Linked DNA regions of Homo sapiens: region 2 is reported to be linked to region 1. The links are microRNA targets in miRTarBase. Many come from high-throughput screens and were not tested one by one. Region 1 holds a microRNA gene; the other region holds the end of a gene's coding sequence.

The links. Region 1 holds the annotated microRNA hsa-miR-7158-3p (CUGAACUAGAGAUUGGGCCCA, at 2,437-2,457, opposite strand). A microRNA usually pairs through its seed, bases 2 to 8, with sites in the 3' UTR of a target mRNA and lowers its output. Matches are read on the target gene's strand: a 7mer-m8 pairs with bases 2 to 8, a 7mer-A1 pairs with bases 2 to 7 and ends in A, and an 8mer does both.
Region 2: the mRNA of SEC14L3 is a reported target of hsa-miR-7158-3p. The part of its 3' UTR that is shown has no 7-base or 8-base seed match.

Annotation. Positions count from the first base shown.
Region 1 is chr2:5,969,177-5,977,168 of GRCh38, reverse strand. MIR7158 (microRNA 7158) reads right to left here and starts at 2,507; the gene lies at 2,437-2,507. It overlaps SILC1 (sciatic injury induced lincRNA upregulator of SOX11), which reads right to left. Exons shown (of 2, transcript NR_026832.1): 2 at 1-7,992. RefSeq lists enhancers at 906-1,559, 2,439-2,940.
Region 2 is chr22:30,453,399-30,460,398 of GRCh38, reverse strand. SEC14L3 (SEC14 like lipid binding 3) reads left to right here. Exons shown (of 12, transcript NM_174975.5): 12 at 257-1,170. The coding sequence ends at 378. Among named protein-coding and RNA genes, the nearest start is that of SEC14L3, 15 kb to the left of the region's middle.

The sequences.
Region 1 (7,992 bases):
CTGGTGAGCTAGACTACTTCTCTTCCTTTAGCTAGGATTGCATTTCTATTATTTTCAGAAATCAACAAAGTTTAAGACAGTAAGATCTCAGCATATAATCTCAATTCTTGTCATCAAATTATCTTACATCACTTATAAGATTCACCTCAATATTGTATCTAAATTTTCTCCTCTGAAAGCAGATGCCTTTTCTGCACAACAAAATGTTGACCTAGGCCTTACCTTGATAAAAGCTACCTCAAGCACCCTGAGGGCATTAGGAGGTGCAATAGGGACAATAAAGCTTGCTAATGTGATTGTGGGTGGCCTGGCAACTGGAGTGATGATGGGGAAAGCCTGGAAATCATTCCCTTCTGAGACCAGACAGCCTAAGCCGAAACCAGAGAAATGCATCACATACAAAGGAGGCAGCAGAGCTGTCTTCATAAATCGCAGCCTGTAGGCCTTTTAATGTGTCAGCGTAACCCGCCGTTAACGATATTTAATTGCTATCTACAGTAAGTTCCGTAGATCATTACCATACCAGTCATTTTTCAAAGATCCTCGTTAGCACAGGACTAGTGAACACAATAAACGATGTGACAGGAGATGGCTAGAGAAATGCTGCAGAGAATGAGCTCATGTAAGTCAGCCAGCTCATAGAGGAAACCCCCTATCTTTCTACTGGCACCATAATAAAATCCACCATGCACACTGGGCTATTTCCACTGCAGTGCATAAGACAAGAGAAATGGGTCACTATTGTGCTCCTGCTGGTTTCCTCTCCACCAATGCAGCTTGTTCCCTCACATAGTAAGGTGATGTCCACAATGCCTGGCTAGAACAGAAAAGATCTGACAACACCGATGTCCACACCTGAAGTGCCTGAAAATAGCACCTTCCTATGAACATTTAAGTTGGCAATCCATCCATTTGGGAGGTACATGTGTACTGTGAACCTACCCAGAACCAGGCACTTTGCTAAGGCATTGAGATTCAAGGTCAAGGGAGGCACAGTCCCCATGGACCTTGCAGCCGGGGACACAGCTAATGGACAGGAGACATTCATAGTCCAACTCACTTGCTTTATTTCAGTGACTTTATTTTCCATTTTGTTATTACCTTCTTTTTCAAGTCTCCTGTTGGAATTTGGATTATGTTACTTTATTTTTTCCTTTAAAATGCTTTTTGAATGATCAAAGGCCCATTTTAATCCCTCTATTGTCTGCAGCTCCTTAGAGGTGAATTCTCCTTTTACAGAGTCTGTTTGCCCTCAAGGTGATGAGTCTCCACAGGTGCTGGGGGCACACCTTCCTTAGGAATCATTCTCCCATGGAGTCTCAGAAATGCCTTGAGCTCTGCAGGCATCTTCACTGGAGCAATGATTTTTATGCTGGGCTTGAGACTTTTGGGTTGCAAGCTGTTCCACATCAGCTTTTACCTTAAATTCTTGCTCAGATTTTCCAAACAGCAAAGACAGTGTGAATGGAGGCCCCTTACACCAGCCACAGTTGGCGTTCTGACTCCTCTGTGTGACTCCTATCCCACACCAGGCCCAGTCCCAGCATTAGCTTTTGTGATGCATTCCTTGGTACAGAAGGCTAAGCATCGCTAATTTCTATTCAGAGACACAGGGACTCTACCCTTGTTCCTGGCTTTATAAAGCTGCTCAGTTCTAATGTGCACTGCACACAACAGCTGCCAGGGCCACAAACACCCCCAAGCAGACGTTAGGCTCTCAACCCCTAAGATACAGTTTTCCTCTCAATAGCTCATAAGACTCTGCCCTCTGACGTGAGAAAATAGAATTCTGTTGTGCTTTTTAAGTATGCCTATGGCATCTTTTAAAATATACCATATATGATCCAGTATTTCTTTGTGTTTGGAGTGTGAATCTGCAGGTGAAAGAGTGTGTTCTACACGTGCCCGATCCATCCTCATTACACAAATTCACCCTCTACTTTAAAACAGGGAATTTGGGCCTTTGACAGGAAAGAAGCCGGACAGTCATGGGGCCAAACTGGAATCAAATGTAAATATTTAATTTCCTCCTGTTAAAAGCAGAGTGGACCCACAGTCCCTCCCAAAGTAAAATGCACAATAATGTGTCAAGAGCCCTGGACTTATTGCTTCTCGGACGTTAGCAAAGATCAAGCGCAGACCACTGGCTTTGGGGTCTGATACCCCAGGAGAGTCCCGGTTTCGTGCTCATGTGTTATGTGACCCTTGACCCCTCGTTCAATTCTCACGTGCTTCACTCTCCTAAGCCATGCAAAAGGGACATAAGGATATCTCCTGAAAGCAGAGTCGGCTGGAAGGCTGGAAGGCTTATGTGAAGCAGTTGCATATCACTTAGCACTTAGAATGGGCAAATAAAAAATGGTTTAGCTTCTCCTTTGTGGGAACAGAGACTGGGATGGTTTGTATCCTGGCTCTCCTGAAACTGCGCTGCCGAGCTGGGCCCAATCTCTAGTTCAGCTCGCTTCAGAAAGCCAAAGGCAGAAGGCTGCAGGACCAGAGATTGAGCCTGGCCACACAGCCCCTTCTTCCTGATGCCACATGGCTGGTGATCCTGGTCACAGCCTGCCTGAGCTGGTGGAACACAGCTTTGTCGGACTGTTGAAGATAACCCTACAGAAAAATCACCTGGTGAAGGGCAAATGCGCATGTTTTGTCATAAGACCAACTGGGTTTCCTAAATCAGCCAAGCCGTTTATCCTGTGGTCTTGGCAACAGGCTGACCTTCCTTTTACAGAGGAGATGGTGATGCCTGGTCCCAGAGGAGCGCTGTGAGCACCCAGGCATGGATTACAGTGCTTAGCACAAAGTAACATTAAATGTGAATCTCTCTTCTAAAACTATGTTACAAAAAGCAGTAATTCATTCCAAGCAAGACTGTCAGTTTAGGTGAATCAAGTAATCATAATTTCTCTAAAACCTTTTTTCTACTGTAAAAGCTTTAATTTTTGTCTTTATTTTTATTGATACATCTTAGATGTGCATATTTTGGGAGTACATATGATAATTCAACACATTCATATAATCAAATCAGCATAATTGGGATATTTGTCACCTTAAATATTGATCTTTTCTTGATGCTATGAGCATTAGGTTAATGGGTACAAATGTACAGTTAGATAAAAAGAATAAGACCTGGTCTTCAATACATCATGGTGGCTATAGTTAACATTAACCATTGTACATTTCAAAATGCTAGAAGAGAATAATTCCAACACGTTTTTTGTTTGCTTACTTTTTTCTGAATTCTAATAGACTGATACATCAGTCCCTGCTGTAGCGAAAATAATGACTTCCTCAAAATGCACTTCAAGAATGTGACCTCAATGGATGTAACAGAAAGAACCTGCTCTTGGTGTTTGGGAAAGAAAAGGTGTTAGGCCCGCCACAATTCCTTCTCCTCCCAGGTGATTCAGAGTCCTGGAGGACAGAATACCTTGGGAACTTGAGTGAACTCCTTTCACCAGCCCAGCCTTGACTCAGATTCCAGCTCATATAGCTCACAAGCTCCACTGCCCAGGCCAAACCCCTCAAATGCTTAGGTTTTGTTTGTTTATTTGAAAGAGTTTTGCTCTTGTTGCCCAGGCTGGAGTGCAATGGCGCAATCTTGGCTCACTGCAACCTCCGCCTCCTGGGTTCAAGCGATTCTCCTGCATTAGCCTCCCGGGTAGCTGAGATTACAAGTACCCACCACCACGCCCGGCTAATTTTTTGTGTGTTTTTAGTAGAGACGGGGTCTCACCATGGTGGCCAGGCTGGTCTCAAACTCCTGACCTCAGGTGATCCGCCTGCCTCGGCCTCCCAAAGTGTTGGGATTACAGGCGTGAGCCACCACGCTCGGTCTAATGGTCAGGTTTTTATTCCTGTATATGTCAAGTAAGGACAATAAGAATTACTTCAAAGTGTTGTTAGGAGCTAATGCATGTAAAGCATTTATAAGAATTTTTGGCACCCAGCAGATGCTCAGAAACTTTTAGCTCATAATATTAGCATTGCTATAAAAATAACATTAATAAAAACCAACAACATTACTACCGTGAGAAAGTCATAATAATATACATCAAAGGATATTAATAATATACAATGACTTTCCCATATGCCATTTGTATGGCCAGAAAGCCAGACACAACTCCTGACTTCCTCCTGCGATTCAGACGACATTGCTTGGATGCAAACTTACCTGAAAGAACCACTTAATAGGTTTGTCACTCTAAGCAAATACTAGTGTTCAAGAAATGTTCTCAGGTGATCTAAAACACAGTCCAGAATACCTGCTTATGGCTTTTCAAATGTTTGCAATACAAGGCCTGCCTCTGTGCTCAGCTCCCAGAGAGAATTTTTCTAATAGATGCAGTTTTTCCTATTAGCAATGGAACATACACATTTGAAACCCAGCTGGCAGCCTCTATGATTGTAGGCTAAATCTCGTAAACAAAACTTAAATGTAAAGAAGTGTTTGTACTAGCTGCAAATGGGCTACTGGTTTGATGCCACAGGGGAAGTTGTTAGCAGGTGACATCAGAGGATGGATTAGTTAGGGTAACATTGTGAACCGAGAGACAGGAGAGATCTTGTCACTCACTGAAGGCGAGACTCTTCTAGAGAGTTGTTTTCTCCCCAAGATCTGCGCCTTTCCCCAGACTGAGTCAGGATCTCCGAGGTTAGGACCTAGCTACGTATATTTTGCACAAAGAACTCTGATTTGGACTCCAGGATTTAGAACCACAAATGTGCATACAGACCCAATTTTGTACATGGGAGGTGAGGTCAGATAGATAAAGTAACTTGCCAGCAGTCACTCATCTCACTAGTGTCACAGCTAGAATTAGAACCTATGGACTTTTGGTCCCTGGTTTGCAGCAGTTTCTGTAACACTAGTGGATATGAAACAACATGAAACACAAAGAACTGAGTCCTCGGAGGTGTGCAGCCCAGCAAAACTGAGCCTCTGGGTGGGAGTGGAGGGCAGCCAGAAAGAAAGGCCTGCGGTGGGTCTCTGCGTCTTAGATTTAGGAGGTAACCCCCACTGCCAGATGGTTTAGGTGATGGTGGCCGTGTGGGAGTGTGGTGATGGCTGGGGAAAATGACAAAGGCAATTCCCTTATGATAGCTGCTGAGGAGAGCAGTTGACACAACCCTGCTGCCATTTTTGACTCTTTCTTCACGAGTTGAGGATAAGGGGATATAACCGCAGCCACCAGCATGGAGATTCCCTAGGTTCTTAAACTTACAGGTTATTAAGGACATAAAGGGGTCTTCATGTATTCTAATGCCCTAATTTCACAGGAGAAGAGACAGTCTCAGGGAAGGCAGGTGGCTTGTTCAGTTTCAATCAGCCAGCAACTGGCAGAGCTGAAACTAGAACTCAGGTCTTAGGGCTCCAGTTCTGTAACTCATCCATCACACAAAATAATTATAATAGCATGTGCCCATGTGGCCTGGACATGGCCTGTAGTCAGTGCCATAGATAGGGATGGATGAGACCCACTGCCTCTAAGGCATGCAGTCCTATTGGCTCCTTCCTGCAGCAGTCCCTGGACCACCAGGTTCAGAAACACCTGGGTCTGTGCTCACATGCAAAGTACTGGGCCTGCCCCAGATTTACTGACTCAGAGCCCCTGCAGGTGAGGCCAGGGAAACTGGCTCAGCAGGTGATACCTGGGTACTCCAACATCTGAGAAACCCCGAGATAAGACCTCCAAGTTCTGGGATATTGTGGGGCTCTGTTGAACAACAGAAGGTGTAACGTACAAGAAAGACTGACCTAAAAGTGGCATCAATTATTTCATTGAAGAATCATCAATTGAGTGCCTACTGGCTTATAGTGCCCACTGTTCACTATGCTGGGAACAGAAGTCAACAAGCCAACCACATTCCAGCTGTGAAGGAATGCATCCGGACAGCCATAGAAGGCCCTGGATGCCTGGTGCCTGGGCTGGGGTATGTGCCAGGTAAAGAAGGGTGTGGATGTCAGAGAAGAACAACTCTTGACAGTGCCCAGGAAGGGCAGCTGCTCCTCGGAAGCAGGGCTCATGGAGCCATGTTGCTATGGATACAAACAGTGTCTGGTTACTTATGGGAACACTATTGTTAGGATGGTTCTGAAATGCTTTTGTCCTGAAGGTGGAGAACTCACCAGACCAAATTACTCTTGGCTAAGGTGGTTAACCCTCTACTCATACGATGTCCTGGGGCAACAGTGCAACCTCAAAAAATATTAAATAAGACCAAACTATGGAGACAATAAAAAGATCAGTGGTTGTCAGGGGCTGAGGGAGCAAGGGGATGAAGGAGTAAGTATCAGTGGAGCACAGAGGATTTTAGGGCAGTGAAACTCGTCTGTATGATACTAAAATGGTGGAGTCATGTCATTATACATTTGTCCAAATGCCTGGAATGTACAACACCAAGAGTGAACCCTGGCGTCAACTATGAACTCATTGTGATGATGATGTGTCAGTGTAGGATCATCAATTATAAAAAGTGTACCACTCTGGGAAGAAATGTTGATAATGAGGGAGACATGTTTGTTGGAGAGGCAGGAAGAATATGGAAAATCTCTGTGCCTTCCACTCAGTTTTGCTAATAATAAAACTAATAATAATAAATAATATGAAATTATTAAATAATATTAATATTAAAATAATATTATTATAAACTAATAATAATAAAACTAATTTTTTTCTGACATCTCTGTCGTCCAGGCTGGAGTGCAGTGGTGCAATCATGGCTTACTCAATCGCCATCTCTTAGGCTCAATGGATCCTCCCACTTCAGCCTCCGAAGTAGCTGGGACTACAGGCATGCGCCACCACACCTGGCTATTTTTTTTTTTAATTTTTTAGAGACAGAGTCTCACTATGTTGCCCAAGCTGATCTTGAAATCTTGGCCTCAAATGATCCTCCCACTTCAGTCCTCAAAGCGTTGAGATGATAGGCATGACCCATGGTGCCTGACCTTAAAAAGTCTTTCAAAAAAAAATTAAATATTTCTAAACTGTTTTTTAAAATAAGTTGTCTCACGGTGTATAAAAGTTATACTATCAAAAGTCAACTTTTGGTAAATGAAGGCTGCCAGATTGATTAGAAATTAGAAGGGGTTTGTCACTGAATCTGGTAAACTCAGAGCAACCACCACCTCTCTCTAAGCCTCTAACCATCTGGATTAGGAAGGAGAGAGGTGGGCTGCTAGAATCCCTTTCTTCAAGCTCTGATGTTCCAAGACAAGGATAATTGCTGATGAGAAAAAAAAAATCAGAATCTCACAGACTGCAAAAGCAGAACAGCACAGTTTCCACAAAACCATACAAATGTACTTTTTGGAACATAAGAGCCAAGCACATGCAACAGCTTAGGGTCCGTAACTCAGCATATGTAAAGTTCGTAAATTAATGTAATAGGAGGCAGGGTAACATCTGTTCTGTAGTACCCAACAGAGGGGATTTGGATATTTGAGAAGAGGCTCTGCACATAGTAAAGTCAGCCTAGGAACATGTGAGCAGTATTTACAGTGAAAAGGTCCCCATCTCTAACTATACACATCTGCTCCAAGACAGCTGAGGCTGGCGGTGCAGACCCCACTGAAGGGAAAGCCCCTTCCGAGGAAGTGGCCTGCTAACAAATCAAAATGGAGCCATCTGCCCTTCCCACTGCATGCGCTCCACCAGCCACCTATTCGTGCTCACCAGCTGGCAGCCTGCCCTGGCCCCGGCATGTGCCTGCCCCCAGTGGGCAGGGCCATGACAAAGCCACTGCTGGTCACCATTAGTGGTCAAGTCTCATGGTGGGTTTATTGAAGAACGTTTGCTTAATTTTAGATCAAAGCAGTACTTTCTTCTCCCTCTGGAAAAAACAAAACACACAAATAGTATATTGGAGCAACGAAGAACATAATCAAGTTTATGTATGGGCCACTACGAAACTGAATAGTTACCTCCTACTTAAAAGGGTATCCTGGGCCACGGTGAAGCGGTCCTTTTATCCTGTGGTCTGCAG
Region 2 (7,000 bases), not on the chromosome of region 1:
ATGGGATGTAATGACCATTGTTCTCGATGCCAGTAAAGCCATGCCTGGGCACATGCCAAGAGGAGGTTGGTGTCTGTTTACAGGACCTGCTTGGGTTGGCAGTTCCCATGGGGAAGGGAAGAGGCGTGGTGGGAGCTTGGCCCAGCTTGGCAAACAAAGCCAGTGGGAACACAAGCCTGTCCTCCTCCATGGCCAGGGGTGGAAAAAAGAGTGTGTAAAGCCAAGCCCAATGCCCCTCTTTCCATCTGTCCCCCAGATGTCCTACGCTTCGACAACACCTATAGCTTTGTCCACGCCAAGAAGGTCAGCTTCACAGTGGAGGTCCTGCTCCCTGACGAGGGCATGCAGAAATATGATAAGGAGCTCACCCCTGTCTAGGTGGCTCCCTCATTTCTCAGAGACCTCCTAACCCTTTGATTTCTCTGTTTATATCCTACACTCCCTCCCTCCCTGAAATTGATTGTTAGTCCTCCTGACTCTGTGACGTTAGTGAGTACAGAAAGAGATGCCCTGGGGAAAACTCATCTACTGTGGTCAGATCAAGAAAGGTATGAGAGGCACAACCTTGGAGGGTACCAAGGTTGCAGAAGAGGAAAAAGCAAGGGTAAAGGCAAGAAGTGGGTGTCATGAAACTCAATAAATAGCAAAATGAATCCCCTAGCCTTTGTCCTCACCTACCCTAAGGCAGGTGTGTATGCTTGAATTCCTTCCGTATGGCTGTGAGCAACTTGGGTTGGAGACATATCTAAATCCTTTTTACTTCCACTCCCTATATATAGTAGATGCTCAGTGTATATTTGTGGCATTGAATGGAGGACCAGAAGGTAGGGTGCAGGTGACTCAACAGCTGTACATGATTAGGAGGAGCCTATGTGGGGTGGATTTCAGCACCTTGGACAGGAGCAGATGTGTGGTGGGGTTGGACTCTCTTCTGGAGACCCAGACAATTCAGTCTCCAGATTTCTGGCAGTGGCTGTCTTTTGAGGGCCCCAGCCACAAAGGCCACATGCCTCTGATAGGAGCTGCCTACATCAGGCTTTGTCTGACTTGCACGCTCAGCTTCCCACCCTAACCCACTTCCCTTGTTGCACATAGCTTATGTTTTAGGGACTTTCCTGGAAGCAAAGGCAGTCACATCTGGCATAATCATAATAAAGAAAACAACTATCATTTGGCGAGTGCTCTCTGTGTACCAGAAACTGTGCCAAGAGCTTTGTGAGTTTAGCATGTTTTATTCTCATGCCATCCCCAAGGCCCTTTATGGATAAGGAAATGGAGGCTCAGAGGGGTGAAGCTACTCACTCAACATCTTACAGCTTGGGTGGCAGATCCAGGACCTGGGGCAGGGGGTGTTCGTTTGTTTGTTTATTTGTTTGTTTGTTTGTTTTTTGAGACAGGGTCTCGCTCTGTCGCCCACCCAGGCTGGAGTGCAGTGGTACAATCATGGCTCACTGCAGTCTTGACCTCTTGGGCTCAAGCCATTCTCCCACCTCAGCCTCCTGAGTAGCTGGGACTACAGGTGGGCATCACCACACTTGGCTAATTTTTTTGTATTTTTTTGTAGAGATGGGGTTTCCCCATGTTGTCTCAAGCTCCTGGCCTCAAGTGATTTACCCCCCATCAGCCTCCCAAAGTGCTGGGATAACAGGCCTCAGCCACCATGCCTGGCCTGTTTTTGCTTTGTTTACTCCAATGACATTGCTCTCAGTTGCCTTGTAATACCGCCTCCTGCCTATAATCCCAGCCCTTGGGGAGGCTGAGATGGGCGGATCGCTTGAGCCCAGGAGTTTTAGACCAGCCTGGGCAACATAGTAAGACCACATCTCTATCAAAAAAATTTAATATAGTAAGAATATGACCTCCTAAGATTCCACTTTTACAAAGGCAGTGAGAAGGCATGATTTATTTGTTCTAGACCTTCCAGTAGAAGTGTCCTGCATGTCACCCTCTCCAGTCCCTGTTTGTGGGTAGAGGAGGTGATAGGCCATAGAGACCCACAATACTGAAGCAGCTTGTCCAAGGAAATTCACAGCAGAGTGGGGCAGGGCTTGTGTTCCTCAGCTCAGCATCCTGTCCGCTGCTCACATGGCATCTGTGAAGCACAACCCCCTGACGCTCACCATGACCCTGGGTGACTAGGGCAAAGGCCAGGACTCCAGAGTTTCCTTCCCAACTTTCTGCTGTGATTCGGGGACGTGAAGAGGCTGGCTTGAGCCCCAGTCCCTGACACAACTCTTGCCAGGGGAGCCGGATCACACCCGGGAATGGGGATGAATGGGAACCAAAGGCTGGTGCCATGAGAGGCTCCTTGGAAACAAACAAACGGAGGGCTGAGCTCATCCGTGGGCAGGCTATGAGGTCTGACTCAGGCTAGTCAAGCAAATATTCAGCAGCAGCAAGCACTTTCCCACATGCACTTATGGGTGCAAAATCTGATATCTGCTTTATAGATGGGAAACTGAGCTCCCAAAGGCACTGGCCTTGTATCTTCAGCCTACAGGTGACAGAAATAGTCCTGGAGCTAAGGCTGCCCCTTACCCCGTCACCTCTTCACCCCCACCACTCTTCTATAACAATTTGTCAGAATGGGACAAGACTGCCTTCTTCCTGAGCTGGCAGGGAAGGAGGAGGGAGGAGGAAGGAGAAAGGAAAAAGGAAGGAAGAGAAGAGAAAATGAGGGTTGTCAGATTTAGAAAGGAAAAAAAAAAAAAAGCATGGCCAGGTGCAGTGGCTCATGCCTATAATCCCAACACTTTAGGAGGCCAAGGCAGGCGGATCACTTGACGTCAGGAGTTCGAGACCAGCTTGGCCAATGTGGTGAAACCCCGTCTCTACTAAAAATACAAAATTTAGCCTGGGGAGGTAGCACATACCTGTAATCTCAGCTCCTCAGAAGGCTGAGGCATGAGAATCTCTTGAATCCAGGAGGTGGAGATTGCAGTGGGCTGAGATCACACCACTGCACTCCAGCCTGAGCAACAGAGCAAGACTCCATCTAAAAAAAAAAAAAAAAAAAAAAAAGACATACTTAAAATGTATCCATTGTTTATCTAAAATTAAAATTGACCTATGCATCTTATATTTTATCTGACAATCCTACCAATGAGGGAAGATGGAGGGAAGAGAGAGGAAAGGGAGGAGGATGGAAAGAGGGGGATGGGTTCACCTTCTTGGAAGACGGTGGCAGCACCCACAATTTGGGCCAATGATGTCATGGAATCCTTGGGAGAGGATGGCTTAGTGTGGGTGATGCAGGGTCGGGGGACAGGGTGGTCTCACCCTTGACCACCAAAGGAAAGGCCTCGATGTTGAAGCAGGGTCTGAGGTAGAGAGTGTGGACCCTTTGTGCCTTTGGGACTAAGATGAGCAGTGCTGTTGCCAGAGCTCCTCTGTGGCAGCTGAGTGGAGGGGACTTGCACCAGGAGGTGGAGCAGTGCAAAGAACCTAAGGCCAGGGCCAGAGCTGAGATCTGCAAAGTGCCCATCAGCATCCGCTGATGCCCACCCCTGGCAAGCCAGCTCCCACTGTGTGCACACAGCCAGTAAGAGGCAGGCTTCCCAAGCTCCAGCTTCTAGCCTCCAGTCTTACTCAGGGTCTAGATGCTCAGCTCCAGTCCTGAATCTCCAGGAGGCAGCATTGGGGAAGGAAAGAGACCCACTTTGTAGCTTTGGCCAATGGTCACTAATAGAGTTTGGATATTTGTCCCCTCCAAATCTCAGGAGGAAATGTGGCCCCCGATGTTGGAGGTGGGGCCTAGTGGGAGGTGTTTGGGTCATGGCGGTAGATCCTTCATGAATGGCTTGGTGCCTGCCCGCCATAATGAGTGAGTTCTTATTCTACAATTGCTTAAAAGAGGCTGGCACCCCTCCCCTCTTCTTGCTCCCTTCCTCTCACCATGTGACACGCTGGCTCCCCTTCCTCTTCTGCTATGAGTAAACGCTTCCTGAAGCCCTCACCAGAAGCTGAGCAGATGCCGGCACCATGCTTTCTGTACATCCTGCAGAACAATGAGCCAAGTAAACCTCTTTTCTTTGTAAATTACCCAGCTTCCAATATTCCTTTTTTCGTGTTTGGTGTTTGTTTTTTTTTTTTTTTTTTTGGAGACAGGGTCTCACTCTGTCGCCCAGGCAGGAATGCAGTGGTGCAATCTAGGCTCACTGCAACCTCCACCTCCTGGGTTAAAGCAATTCTCCCACCTCAACCTCCCAAGTAGCAGGGAACACATGTGCCTGCCACCATGCCTGGCTAATTTTTGTATTTTTAGTAGAGATGGAGTTTCACCATGTTGGTCTTGAACTCGTGGCTTCAGGTGATCCACACACCTTGGCCTCCCGAAGTGCTGGGATTACAAGCGTGAGCCACCTTACCTGGCCCAATATTCCTTTATAGTAACACAAAATGGACTAACACAGCCCCCTCATTCCAGAAGTGATAAGCTAGCAGCATAGGGCAGGAAAACCAAGGCCTGCAGGCCCCCCATTGTGTGAGAAGGAAAGTTAACTTAGAAGTTCCTGTTCCAACAGCCCAGAAATGCCAAGGCAGAGCCAGGGAAGGAAAAGTCTCACTGTTCTTGGGAAGCTAGAGTTGGTGGCCACAGGCCATTTCCCATAGAGGAGTCAAATTTCTGCTGAGGCCAAAAGGCGAGGCTCCCAACCGTGTAGACCTCAGGCCAGGGACACCGGTGGGCAACACTATGCTGGTGCTAATGAGGCCCCAGCCCTGCCTCTTACTCCTTCCCCAAGAACCCACCACCACACTGGCCCCTTCAGAGACCACAAATGCATGTCACAAAGTTAAGACATCAGGTTTTTCCCCTAACAACTAGTACCAAAAAGCACAAGGTTAAGGCAACACAGGCCAGGTGCAGTGGCTCGTGCCTGTAATTCCAGCACTTTGGGAGGCTGAGGCAGCTGGACCACTTGAGGTCAGTTCAAGACCAGCCTGGCAACATGGTGAAACCCTATCTCTACAAAAATATAAAAATTAGCTGGGCGTGGTGGTGCATGCCTGTAATCCCAGCTACCTAGGAGACTGAGGCAGGACAATCACTTGAACCTGGGAAGTGGAGGTTGCAGTGAGCCGAGGTCACATCACTGCACTCCAGCCTGGGCGACAGAGACTCCGTCTCAAATATATATAATATATTATATATAATATATTAAATATTATATATTATATTATTTAATATTTATATTAATTTATATTATATATTAAATATTAAATATAATATATTAAATATTAAATATAATATATATTAAATATTAAATATAATATATATTAAATATTAAATATTAAATATATTATATATTAAATATTTAATATATTATATATTATATATAATATATTGTATATCTATTATATAATATAATATATTATATATAATATATTATACATCTATTATATAATATATAATATATAATAATATATTATATATCTATTATATGATATATAATAATATATTATATATCTATTATATAATATATAATAATATATTATATATCTATTATATAATATATAATAATATATTATGTATTATATAATAATATAATATATTATATATTATTATATATTATATTATAATATATAAAATATATAATATACAATAATATATAATATATAATAATATATTATATATTATATATTATATATAATAATATTATTATATATTATAGATTATAGATTATATATAATAATATATATTATGGATTATAGATTATATAATAATATTATAGATTATATATAGTAATATTATAGATTATATCTAATAATATTATAGATTATATCTAATAATATTATAGATTATATATAATAATATTATTATAGATTATATATAATATTATTATAGATTATATATAATATTATTATAGATTATATATAATAATATTATTATAGATTATATATAATAATATTATTATAGATTATATAGAGAGAGAAACAAGGGTTATTTTTTCGTTGTCTTCTGAAGGGGCCACTGCCTCCAGGTCTTCCTCCAAAATAGACTGAGATTCCATATCAATTTCCTCCTCAGAAGAGAGTCTCTCTGTTGCGCAAGTCACCAGCCCCATCTTGTGGGCCTCCCAGCTGGCAGGGCACCAAAACAGAGCCTCTTAAGCTGCAGAGAGGGCAGGATGGCTGGAAGACCTCGAGTGCCTTCCTCAGGGTCACAGGAGCAGCAACAGAGTGACACCAGTGAAGGCCAGTGCAACCAGCAAAAAGTCCTTCAGCATCTTGCAGGAGGCTGGGAAGGAGAGGTCCAAGAGCACCCCAGGACTGCCCAGAGGTGCGGGGCAGGTTGTACAGGACAGCTAGGGTGAGTCCAGAGGTAGGAAAACAAAGGCCAGGAGTGCCTGGGGAAGCAAGGGTATGGCTGAGACCAGAAAGAACAGTAAGACAAGACCAAGCATGACTATCCATGAACCTGGACAGCAGTTGGGGGGAGGAGAGATTAGTTCTGTTAGTGCCTAGGCCCCCTAGACCCTGCACCTACCTTTAAACCATAACACTATAGCATCTTGACCTTCAGCAGGGCCGGGCCACCATATAGGTGTCCCCTTCCCCAGGAAACTCTGAAGAGAGTAAGCTGTCAGCCCTATCTCTCCTCCCTTTCCTGCTTGGAAGGAGGAAAATTCTTCCACGGCCATTAACTTCCCAAGGCAGGCCTGTGTTCAGCTGCTAAAAGCAGGCTGGGCTGGGCACGGCGGCTCACGCCTGTAATCCCAGCACTTCGGGAGGCCGAGGTGGGTGGATCATTTGAGGTCGGGAGTTTGAGACCAGCCTGGCCAACATGATGAAACCCTGCCTCTACTAAAAATACAAGAATTAGCTGGGCGTGGTGGTGCATGCCTGTAATCCTACCTACTCGGGAGGCTAAGGCAGGACAATCACTTGGACTCGGGAGGTGGAGGTTGCAGTGAGCTGAGATTGCGCCATTGCACCCCAGCCTGGGCAACGGAGCGAGACTCCATTTCAAAAAAATAAATAAATGAAAGGAGGCTGTGGC